Homo sapiens: one gene and its partners. The protein of the gene in region 2 interacts with the protein of the main gene of each other region in a biochemical or structural test. Each region holds a gene or a part of one and is shown on either strand. Other genes may lie near its edges. The genes, in order: MBD1, PIAS2 and HIC1.

What was found.
Region 1: the proteins of PIAS2 (region 2) and MBD1 form a complex in vitro, tested with the Homo sapiens proteins (one study listed by BioGRID).
Region 3: of the proteins of PIAS2 (region 2) and HIC1, one has a biochemical effect on the other in vitro, tested with the Homo sapiens proteins (one study listed by BioGRID).

Annotation. Positions count from the first base shown.
Region 1 is NC_000018.10:50,271,524-50,275,174, forward strand, and holds part of MBD1 (methyl-CpG-binding domain protein 1), read right to left. Parts: coding exon 3,606-3,651; intron 3,523-3,605; coding exon 3,454-3,522; intron 2,831-3,453; coding exon 2,663-2,830; intron 2,341-2,662; coding exon 2,041-2,340; intron 1,949-2,040; coding exon 1,811-1,948; intron 1,433-1,810; coding exon 1,301-1,432; intron 1,216-1,300; coding exon 1,154-1,215; intron 18-1,153; coding exon 1-17. UniProt on the Homo sapiens protein: Transcriptional repressor that binds CpG islands in promoters where the DNA is methylated at position 5 of cytosine within CpG dinucleotides. Binding is abolished by the presence of 7-mG that is produced by DNA damage by methylmethanesulfonate (MMS).
Region 2 is NC_000018.10:46,806,089-46,809,634, reverse strand, and holds part of PIAS2 (E3 SUMO-protein ligase PIAS2), read left to right. Parts: 3' UTR 1-3,546. UniProt on the Homo sapiens protein: Functions as an E3-type small ubiquitin-like modifier (SUMO) ligase, stabilizing the interaction between UBE2I and the substrate, and as a SUMO-tethering factor.
Region 3 is NC_000017.11:2,058,017-2,060,986, reverse strand, and holds part of HIC1 (hypermethylated in cancer 1 protein), read right to left. Parts: coding exon 2,152-2,970; 3' UTR 1-2,151. UniProt on the Homo sapiens protein: Transcriptional repressor. Recognizes and binds to the consensus sequence '5-[CG]NG[CG]GGGCA[CA]CC-3'. May act as a tumor suppressor. Involved in development of head, face, limbs and ventral body wall.

The DNA of each region.
Region 1 (3,651 bases), 3.5 Mb from region 2:
TTTTAAGGTCTTTGGACCTAGGGAAAAGGGAGCAGGTCTGTATGTTGAATGAGGTTTGCTATGTGCGCAATGGAGCATTACAAAACCATTTCCTACTATTCTGTGTCCTCCATCCACTTCCCCTTAATTATCCTTTATCTTTTTTTATATCTTCTAAAAACTACCATTATAGACAGCTTGTACATAGTCAGATTATAAGCTCCCTGAAGGTAGGTATCCTGTGTCTCCTGAAGGGTAAGCTTTGCAGGGCTCATTGTCCTCAATGCTGTGCACCCAACAGGAACTCAATCAATACTTCTGTAATTGGCCAAGTATAGATGAAAGGGTTTCTAGCCTGGTGGGCTGGTTTGTAGGAGCAAAGGAATCCAAGTGCTTAGGCCAATAGTTTACATCGCCAGTGTCTGGGGCTCTATGCAGGGTCTGTCAATATTCTGCAGGAGCCAGCACTCCTCTGTCCTCCCAACCACCCTAGTCCTTACAGGCATCTACCCTTTGTTCTATGCCAGGACTACAGGGACAGTTCTGCAAGGCATCTGAAGTTAATAACCTCAATAGGCTCAGGAAAGGCTCAAGAGATCCAGCCCAAGCCCTTCCACAGAGGCCGCTCCAGGAAGTGCAGGGCAACCAGAGATCACACAACTACGTGTGAACCCAGCTCACAAAGCCAGCTCGGAACCCAGATCTCCTGCCCATACCACTGCCCAGGCAAGCCCAGCACCATTTCTCTGGTACACATTGCTCAATGTCAGGCAACAGCCCACCCAGAGGTCTCCTGGAGACTCTAAAGGCCTTCAAGACCCAAATGATTATTCTCTGAATAAGAATTTATATATTAAAGCTGACCCCTATAGAAATTCCTTAGGAAAATAGGGACCAGACTCCCTATCTTTTTCTTTCAAATCTCATGATAGAGTACCAAGTCTTTCCCCTACCCCCAAAGGAGAGTCCTAACCTGGAATGCTATTGGGCTGGATCTCAGGAGAAATCTCTAGGGTCCTACACACACGCCCCTCATTAATTGTGACCAGCATAGTGGGTATGGGCCTTTACCTCCCACCACACCATGCCAAACTGCCGGCTATACTTTCAAAACTCAGGGCCCACATCTGGCCAACACCCACTCCTTCCCCACCCCTCACTGTGTGGGGCACACCTTGGCAACCAGACTGCTGTATCTCGGAAGCGGGTTCCACCCAGGCTGAAAATCTCCGTGATCTAGAGAAGAATTAACACCATAGGTCAATGTGGTTGTTGGGGCTACAGCAGGGTCAGGGCAGGGTGGGGCATCCCCAGCACTGACCACGGGTGTGCCAGCCCCTCCTGCCTCTTCCTCTGGGGCCAATTTGGAGGCAGAATCATCCTTGTTCTCCTCCTTGTCCTCCTCTGGGTCAGGTGGCTCTTGCTTCACAGAAGGCAGGCCTGGGTCTACTGCCTGGGAGAAGTAGGAAACAGGCAACCATTAGAAGGGCAGAGTTCACCTGAGGAAAGTCTCTATCAGCCAACCCCTCACTGTGCTGACAAATCCTACTTCCATCACATTTCAACACAGAAAGTCCATCTCTCTGCCTACAAAGCTTTCCCATTCCCATTCCTCACTGACCTCCGTTTTTCTGTTAGCTGGATAGCAAAGCGGGCAAAGCTAGTTGCCTGTGGGAGGTAGGGTGTCTGTTAGACAGGCGGGGTAATTCTGCAGAAACGTCGCAATCAGCACATCTATTGCTCTGCTCAAGAGAACCATCATGGCTCATCATCACTCTGCTTACAGACCACTCCGCTACGGCACCAACAGAACATCCATCACTGCCCCCACCTTGCTAGGGCAGCCAGGCACCAATACGGGAGAAGTCAGGACAGCTGTGCCTGGTGTCCACTCGTCCTGGGTATCCGCCTTCTCTTGCTTCACCTGGGGTAAGGCCACAACCCAACTCAGGCCAGAGCACTGGGCCTCCTGCGTGAGGGAGGATTGCAGCAGACTTGGTCTCAGCTCCCTGGCATGCAGCTGGGTGAGGCTGGGAAGGCAGGACAGGGTGGGGCCCTCACCTGCAACAGGGCTTCTGTGGAAGCTGCAACAGGGCCCGGCACCTGCACAGGACTGCTTGCGCCTTCCCGTAAAAACACAAGGTCAGTGCCAGGCGGGGGCAGCACAAAGCCACCACCTGCTTCCTGCTTCGTTGGAGCCTGGGTATGGTCTGGTTGGGCTGTGCGTGTAGCCAAGGTGGGCTTCAAGGTAGGGCCAAGATGGTGCCGTCGGGCAGAGCTGGGCCTCTTTCGACGACGGTAAGGTGGGGGCGATCCTGCCCCATCCTCAGACTCTGACCAGACACTGGGCAGCAGCCGCTTCTATGGGGAAAGATAGGGTGCTATGGCTACCTGGTGTCCTGACCAATCACATCCACCCTGCCCGGCTCCACATGCCTGCTAATCTCCCATCAGTCCCAGCACGGAATCTGCTTACATATGAGCCCTTCATCACTGAGCCTGCTAGTCTCCTATTAGCAACACCAATGCCACCTAGACTCATTAAGCCAAGAACAATGTCTGTTAATCCTCAACCAAAGCTACTGCCCCACCCACCCACCTACCAAGCCTGCCCACCACTTCCAGGCACTGGGGCGCCTGGCCCAACCTATCCCGTCCACCTGACCCTTCCTGCCCCACCCACCATGGCAAACTGCAGGCATTGGCGCCAACGACACTTCTGGCGCTTCTGGTTGCTGCCCCCGAATTTGGGCTTGTCGCAGCAGAAGTCGCAGCGGCCACAGTCCATCCGCCGTAGGCAGGCTGCACAGGCCCCGCACTTGCGGTTCTGCCGGCGGTTCGTGTAGGGCTGCTGGGGTGGGGGGAATGGGTGGTGCTGTCAACTAGGACTAGGAGAGGCCATCCTCAACGCCTATTCCAGTGCTGGTCCTGGTGCTCCTCTAGCCCCATAAGACGGAGCTACTTGCATACTAGTCTCAGCCTCCTGACTCCCCACTAGTCACTCCTCAGCATTCGCTAGTTCAACATTGGCCACTATCACTGTGCCAGCTGGCCCTCGATACCATTAGGACTGTGGCTGCTCCACTACAGTATCCACTGCTGTATTTCCTAGGCCACCACTAGCTACCAAGAAAATGTCTCTGACCCCCATTTCCAGCAACATTTTGATAACTCTCTATTAGCTCCCATCACTGTGCCTACTCTGTCGCTCATCCTAGGTGAACCCCAGTCACTATGCTAGCTGCTCCTCTGTCAATCCCCACATCAGCTACCAGAGTGTTGGTATATGTGACATGAAGCACTCTCATGCACCTGCTGACCCCGTATTAGTCCTCCATTATCTACTCATCCCATCCTAGGACCCATTATTGTGCCTTGCTGTTCCCCAATAGGCTCATTCCAGCATCTGCTTCTTTGAAGTTAACCAAGCGTCCTGAGATTCTAGGCTTATCCAGGTAGGGTGGGGCCACTCACTAGCTCGTCCTCGTCTACACAGTAATAGATGAACTCGGCAGGTGGCGAGGGGGCCAGGGCTCTGGGGTGCTGTAGAGGCAAATGGGGTGGGGTCAGGGCAGGTACTGGGTAAGGTCAGGGTTGTGCCTTCCCTCCACCCACTGGGGCCTCACCGGCTCTGTGGGCTCTGGGGACTGTGATGGGGGTGGTGGAGGCAGT
Region 2 (3,546 bases):
TACAGGCATGTATCACCACGCCCAGCTAATTTTGTATTTTTAGTAGATACGGGGTTTCTCCATTTTGGTCAGGCTGGTCTCGAACTCCCGACCTCAGGTGATCCGCCTGCCTTGGCCTCCCAAAGTGCTGGGATTTACAGGCGTGAGCCACCGCGCCTGGCCAAAATAAAATGTTTTTATCTTTCTTCACTTAGAACTATGAAGGCCTTTTCTTGTTCTGGTAACCCCCCACAGTGTAATTGGTGCTGAAAATAGTTTCGTGCCTGAGGTCTGTTGTCACTCACTCACTTTCTGACAATTAGGTGAGCCACTTGAGGATTTTCTGGCCTGAAGTTATAAAAACTTGGCATCTGTCCTAAGGTAATTGTAAAGGCAAAATGAAAGCATTGAGGTGAATTTAGGTTATATGGCATTTATCTGGTAATGTGTTTCAGAAAAGCTAGAATGAAAATGTGATGTAAGGGATAGCAAGTGTAGGTTGATTCATAATTCTTGGTATAAAACCAAGTTTTCCTTAGTCTTGAGGAATTTGAAGAAAGGTAAAATGTTGGATTTTAAGCAAAGTAGGATTGACCAGAGACTGTTCTGACTTTGACATTCAGACCTTTCAGATGTTCTTCCTTCAGACCAGTCCAAGACACTCAGCATTTCCAGCCAAGTTGTCTTTTTTTTCTGCCAATAAAGTATTCATTAGTTGACGTTTGTTTGTATTTTAAGTAAAGTCAATTTTTTTTAAAGCATTAATTTAATTCACGGGTATGCCTTTCATTTCTCTGGCCTTCAGTTGGTTTAAAAAAAAAAAAAAAAAAAAAAGCACTTAGCCGGACCATTCTTTCTTTAGTAAACATTTTTATTTTCTTAATTTTTCCTGAAAGATTTTCTTCATTTTCATGGAATGTCATAATGACACTACCATTATTTTCTAGCTCTTTGCATAATAGAAAAATGTAGAGCAGTGCACCATTTAAACACGTCTGACATTGGATTTAGTGGTCCTAGGTTCATGTGATTTGGGAGCCTTAAGTTGTTATTTAGATTGATTCAGCCTGATTCACCATCTTTTTTACTACAGTTCTACATGAATGTGGTGAAACAGGTAGAAGAAAATTAAGCATTTCTCTGCTTTTGGAGTCTAATGTTCCTGCCTAGTGACTGGTTTGTAACACCCCCCTCACCCCTACTTTGTTAGGAACCTGCAATTCCTAAAAGAAATAAATAAAGCTGTACCCAATGTCCATTCTTTAATGCTTGCCTGGTTGAATAATGTTTGTTTTTTCTGTTTATGTCAGTAGTACATGCTTATTGTGGAAAATTTAGACAATACAGAAAAGTATAACAATTAATTGCCTATGATTCTGTCACCAGAAAAAATCACTTGATATTTTTGCATCTTCCTTGCCATTGTCTTTGCTACTTCTGCATATTTTTACTTAGTTTCATCATTCTCAGTGTAATTTATATCTTGGGGTTTTTCCCCGCAACCTACAGGCATTATTCCATGTCATTAAAACTGTGTCAACTATTATTAATTTTATGGTACTCCATTGTTATGGATGTGCCATGTTTCATATAACCTTTACTTATTTTGAACAGTTTAGATTATATCTCATAATGCCACAATGAATGTCTTTGTGTATAAATTATTTTCTTAGGATAAAATACTGGAGGTGGAATTTCTAGTCAAGGGTATATGAACACTTTTGTAGTTCTTGATTCATACCACTTTTCCACATGGGTATGTTAATTTATACTGCAGCTAGATGGTATGGGAAGGGTGGTCTAGCCATATTTTCCAAGAACATGCAACGTTTTATCTTTATGCAGGCATCTGCACTAAGACCCTCTGCCTTTCTGACTCTATGGAACGGGGTTAACTGATATGGAGATCATTGGCAGAGATTTTCCCAAGCTTTCTTAGTTTTAAATATATCTGACATGGGCCGGGTATGGAGGCTCACGCCTGTAATCCCAGCACTTTGGGAGGCCAAGGCGGGCAGATAATCTGAAGTCAGGAGTTGGAGACCAGCCTGGCTAACATGGAACATGGTGAAACCCCATCTCTAGCAAAAACATAAATTAGGTGGGTGTGATGGCAGGCGCCTGTAGTCCCAGCTACTTGGGAGACCGAGGCAGGAGAATCGCTTGAACCCAGGAGGCGGAGGATTTGCAGTGATCCGAGATTGTGCCACTGCACTCCAGCCTGGGTAACAAAGCAAGACTCTCTAAAAAAAAAAAAAAAAAAAAAAAAAAATATATATATATATATATATATATATATAAAATCTGACATGTTTCAGAAACACCTACGTATGGCTATCCAAGCTTTTCCCATGATTTTACTGGCACTGTAAAGTTGCACAAATATTCTTTGTCAGACTACGTTTTCCATCTTTAGTTCAAAAGTTTTGTCACTTTTTAAAAAAAGCCTCTTGTACCTAAGGCCTGCCCTTAAGAGGTCAGCTCTCTTTTTCCTCTTCCTGTAGGCCCCATTATGGCCTTTCTGAGCTCCCCAAAGCCAGTAGAATCTACTGAGCCAAAGGCATTCCATCCCCAAACTGAAAAGTGGTAAGGCTAAAAGCTATAAAAACAGGCAAACATTGCCTGTTTTCACTTTATATTCCCTTATGTTTCCAATAAGGGTAGCTGCAGGGAAAGAAAAAAACAGATTGCTACCTTCAGATGTTTGAGGTACAACATTTTCTTGATTGGCGTAGCACAATCATTTCCCAAACTGCTTCCTATTTCTGAATGGCTTTTTTAAAAAGCTTTATTTTGTGTTCTCAAAGCTTAATTATTTTAAGTGACGAAGAGTGTTACCGTGTTGTAGAATAGCATATGCCTCTTATTTTGGCCTTCATCAAACTGTTTAATAAATGTTTAGAGTGTTTTGTAAGTACACGTGGAATAGAGTGTTACAGAAGTTTTGGTTCCAGACATCAGGCAGCTTATAATCAAGGTTCCAAAAATCAAGAATTCTTAAGCTGGGCATGGTGGCTCATGCCTGTAATCCCAGCACTTTGGGAAGCCAAGGCAGGCAAATCACTTGAGGCCAGGAGTTTGAGACCAGCCTGGCCAACTTGGTAAAACCCCATCTCTACTAAAAATACAAAAAATTAGGGCATGATGGCTCATGTCTGTAATCCCAGCTACTTGGGAGGCTGAGGGATGAGAATTGCTTGAACCTGAGAGGCGGAGGTTGCAGTGACTCAGGATCATGACCCTGTACTCCAGCCTGGGTGACAGAGTGAGACCAAAAAAAAAAAAAAAAAAAAAAAAAAAAAGTAACAGGCATTGTGCAAAGAATTTTCCAAGAATGTCTCATTCTTGCAATGGCTTCTCAGAGGAAAGTGGTGTTATTCCCCATTTTACAAATGAAACAGGTTTAGGTAAGTTTCCCAAGGTCACAGTGAATGAGTAGTGGACTTGGGAGTCTGACCTAGACTTACCCCAAAAGCTCTCTGCGTAAACTGAAGTGACGTTAATTAGCTGTGCTATCTAGGAGACTGATATGGGAATCTAGACTTAAAATTATGAGAACTGGTTTCA
Region 3 (2,970 bases), on a different chromosome or scaffold from region 2:
CAGTCTCCCTGAGGCCTGGACTCGCCCATGAACCCAAGTCGGCTTCTAGACAGCATGTCCCTAACAGCAGCCCTGGGCCCCCACCTCTTCTACCATCCACCCCAGACTTACCACACACCCTTCCTGCTGCTCCTCTTCCTGCCCTTATCAACCTGGGTCCCTCACACTTCGCCAGTTGCGTCCCCGTGGACAGTCATGAGTCTAGAGGAAAGGGGCATCTGGTCTCAGGCCCGTGCTCTCGGGTGGCCTCCACCTGCTCCCTCTCTCCTCACTGGCCTTTCTTTCCGTCTAGCTTCCTCTTCAGGAAATGTCCTGACTCCCCTCAGCTCCCCCTTCACCCCTCCTTGCCCGCCTACCCTCCCTCCAGAATAGCCCCTCACCCTTCTTCCCCTTCTAGTTGATCCTTTTCACCTCCCTGATCCCCTTCATTTCTTCACCGCGGTTCCTCGTCATAGGGGTTCTCACTCTGAACTTTCCCTCTCTACTACCCATGGCAGGAACCTAGTACAGGTCTCCCACCCAGGGCCTTCCACCCTCGGCTCCTGTGCTGGGAGAAACTTCCAGGCGTGGACAGCCCAGCCTGAGGCATTCCAGTGCTGGGGCACCGTCGCCTAACCTGGTTTCTAGCTTTGCCCTCACTCCCCGGAAAAACTGACACTGACACAGGGGCCCTTTCCTTGCCCCTTTAGCTGGTACCTCAGTGGGGAGGCTTCCTTACCAAGAATGAGTTCCTGAAACCCAGGGCCAGAGACAAGGACAACTTAGGGGAAGACGGGGTTTTCGGTGGAGCCAGGGGCAAATCTTAATGGGACCAGTGGGGGATACCCCAGAGCCCATGGCCTGACTGCACAGCCTGCCTGGAGGATGGGTGCGCAGCTCTGCCCTCCCTGAGGCCCAGGACTATGCCAGAAGCGATGGGGTACCGTGTAGGGGAGCCAAGGCCAGTAGTTTGGGGGTAGGAGTCCCCTAGAGTCTCAGAAGACTGGGCTCTTTGGAGTACAGGGTCCCCGGCCTCTCCTTTAAGATTCTCTCCCCAGCTGGAAGGCCGATGACTGGGTGGTCGGGAGGGAGACCCAGCTCTCCTTTCTGTCCCGTTTGCAGCACTGGTTTTGTTTCCTTAATAAATTTTTAGTTATGAAACATACCTGACCTCTTGCTGATCTGTTTCTGGGACTGGGGAGGGAGGCAGGTCCAAGCCTCTGCACCTGTGTGAGGGTGGCCCTTTCTGGCTCCTCCACCCAGCGGGCGCAGCCCATCCAGGTCCTTGTGCAGGGGCAGAAGAGAGCAGCGGGGTCGGGGTCCTTGGTTACTGCTTTATTGCTGTTTGGTTCGAGTATAGAAAATGGAAGCGGCTCTGGAAGAGCCTGTGTACAAGGTAGGAAATATACAAACGAAGAGGAGGGAGCTAAAGAGACCGCGTTCCAGCCCAGCCCAGCCTGGGCTCGGGATGGGGGGCCGCCGGGGCGCATGCAATAAATATGGTCCGGGGCCGCAGGGAAGGGAAGGGAGGGCACCGCGGGAGTGGGAGACCTGGTGGTAGGCTCTTCGCCTTCCGACTCCAGAACTCCCCGCCCTTGGTGACTGAGGAAGGAAGGGTTGGCCCTGGGGCTAGTGCCACTTGTGCAAAATGAGGAACTTCACATTATCAGTCCCGGGGTGGGTGGGAGCGGGGGTGCGGGGGGCCCTCCGGCCGGCTCAGTCCCCTCCCCACTCCCCAACTCTGCCCGACGCTCCGACCCCAGCGGGGAGATTCACAGTGAGAATGGGTGTGGTCGCAAGGGCCGGAGGTAGGGCTAGGAGTGCCCCGACAGTGACACCCCTCCCCCTCTAAGAGCAGCGCGGAGCCGGGGGAGGGGGCCGACGAACCACAGGAAGAGGCGGGAGGGGCCTGGGGTCTCCTTTGGTCAAAGCTGATATCAAAAATATAAATTTCCCTTACCCCATCCCACCCCCGTCCCGGGGTTCTCCCCCGACCCCCGAGCTAAGGCACGAAGCAGTGAGGCCAGGTGAGGCCGCCGAGAGGTGGAGCCGCCACTGTGGCGACGCTGCGGTTGTCCCGGGCACAGTGGGCCCTGCGCGCCGCCCCCGCCGCTCCCTGGGGTGCGGGCCAGGGCCGCGCAGCAGCGACAGAGCGGGCTGGCGAGGGGCGCTCTAGGTGGGAGAGAAACGGTCGATGGTCCGGCCGTCGGGCCCGGCCGCCAGGTGAGCGCCCTGGCTCAGCACCTCGGCCGCCTTGTCGGGGCTGAGGCCCAGCTCGGCCGTGAACTTGGCCAGCGGGTAGAGGCTCTCCAGCGCCACCTTGGGGTCGTGCAGGAAGTGCGTGGTCTGCGCCAGCAGCTCGGCCGCGGCCGCCTTGTCCTGCTGCTTCAGGCTCAGCTGCTCGGCCGTGAGGCGAGCCACAGCAAAGACGCCCTCGGGGAAGTCGAGCTTGCCCTTGCCGTCGGGGCCGGGGACGCCGGGGAGCCCCCCCAAGCCCGCCAGCGCCCCGGCCGCGCCGGCCGCGCCCCCCACGGCGTGCATCTTCATGTGGCTGATGAGGTTGCGTTGCTGTGCGAACTTGCCGCCGCACACCTGGCACTCGTAGGGCTTCTCGCCCGAGTGGATGCGCATGTGCTCCGTGAGGCGGTACTGGCGCGTGAACCGCATGCCGCACGCGTCGCACGCGAAGGGCTTGAGGCCCAGGTGGCTGCGCATGTGGCGCGTCATGGTCCCACGCTGCGTGAACTTCTTCCCGCAGATGGTGCATGGGTAGGGCCGGGTCAGCCAGTGCGTCTTCTCGTGCTGCCGCAGCGTGGCCGGGTCCTTGTAGCTCTTGTCGCACGACGCGCAGCGGTAGGGCCGCAGCAGCTCTCCCAGGCCACCCGGAGCCCCGGCGACCTTGTCCCCGCCGCCTCCAAAAGGGGGCCCTAGGCCGGCGGCCCCAGCGGCCACTTCGGCCGCCTCGGCCCTGCCGTACAGCGCTTCCTCCTC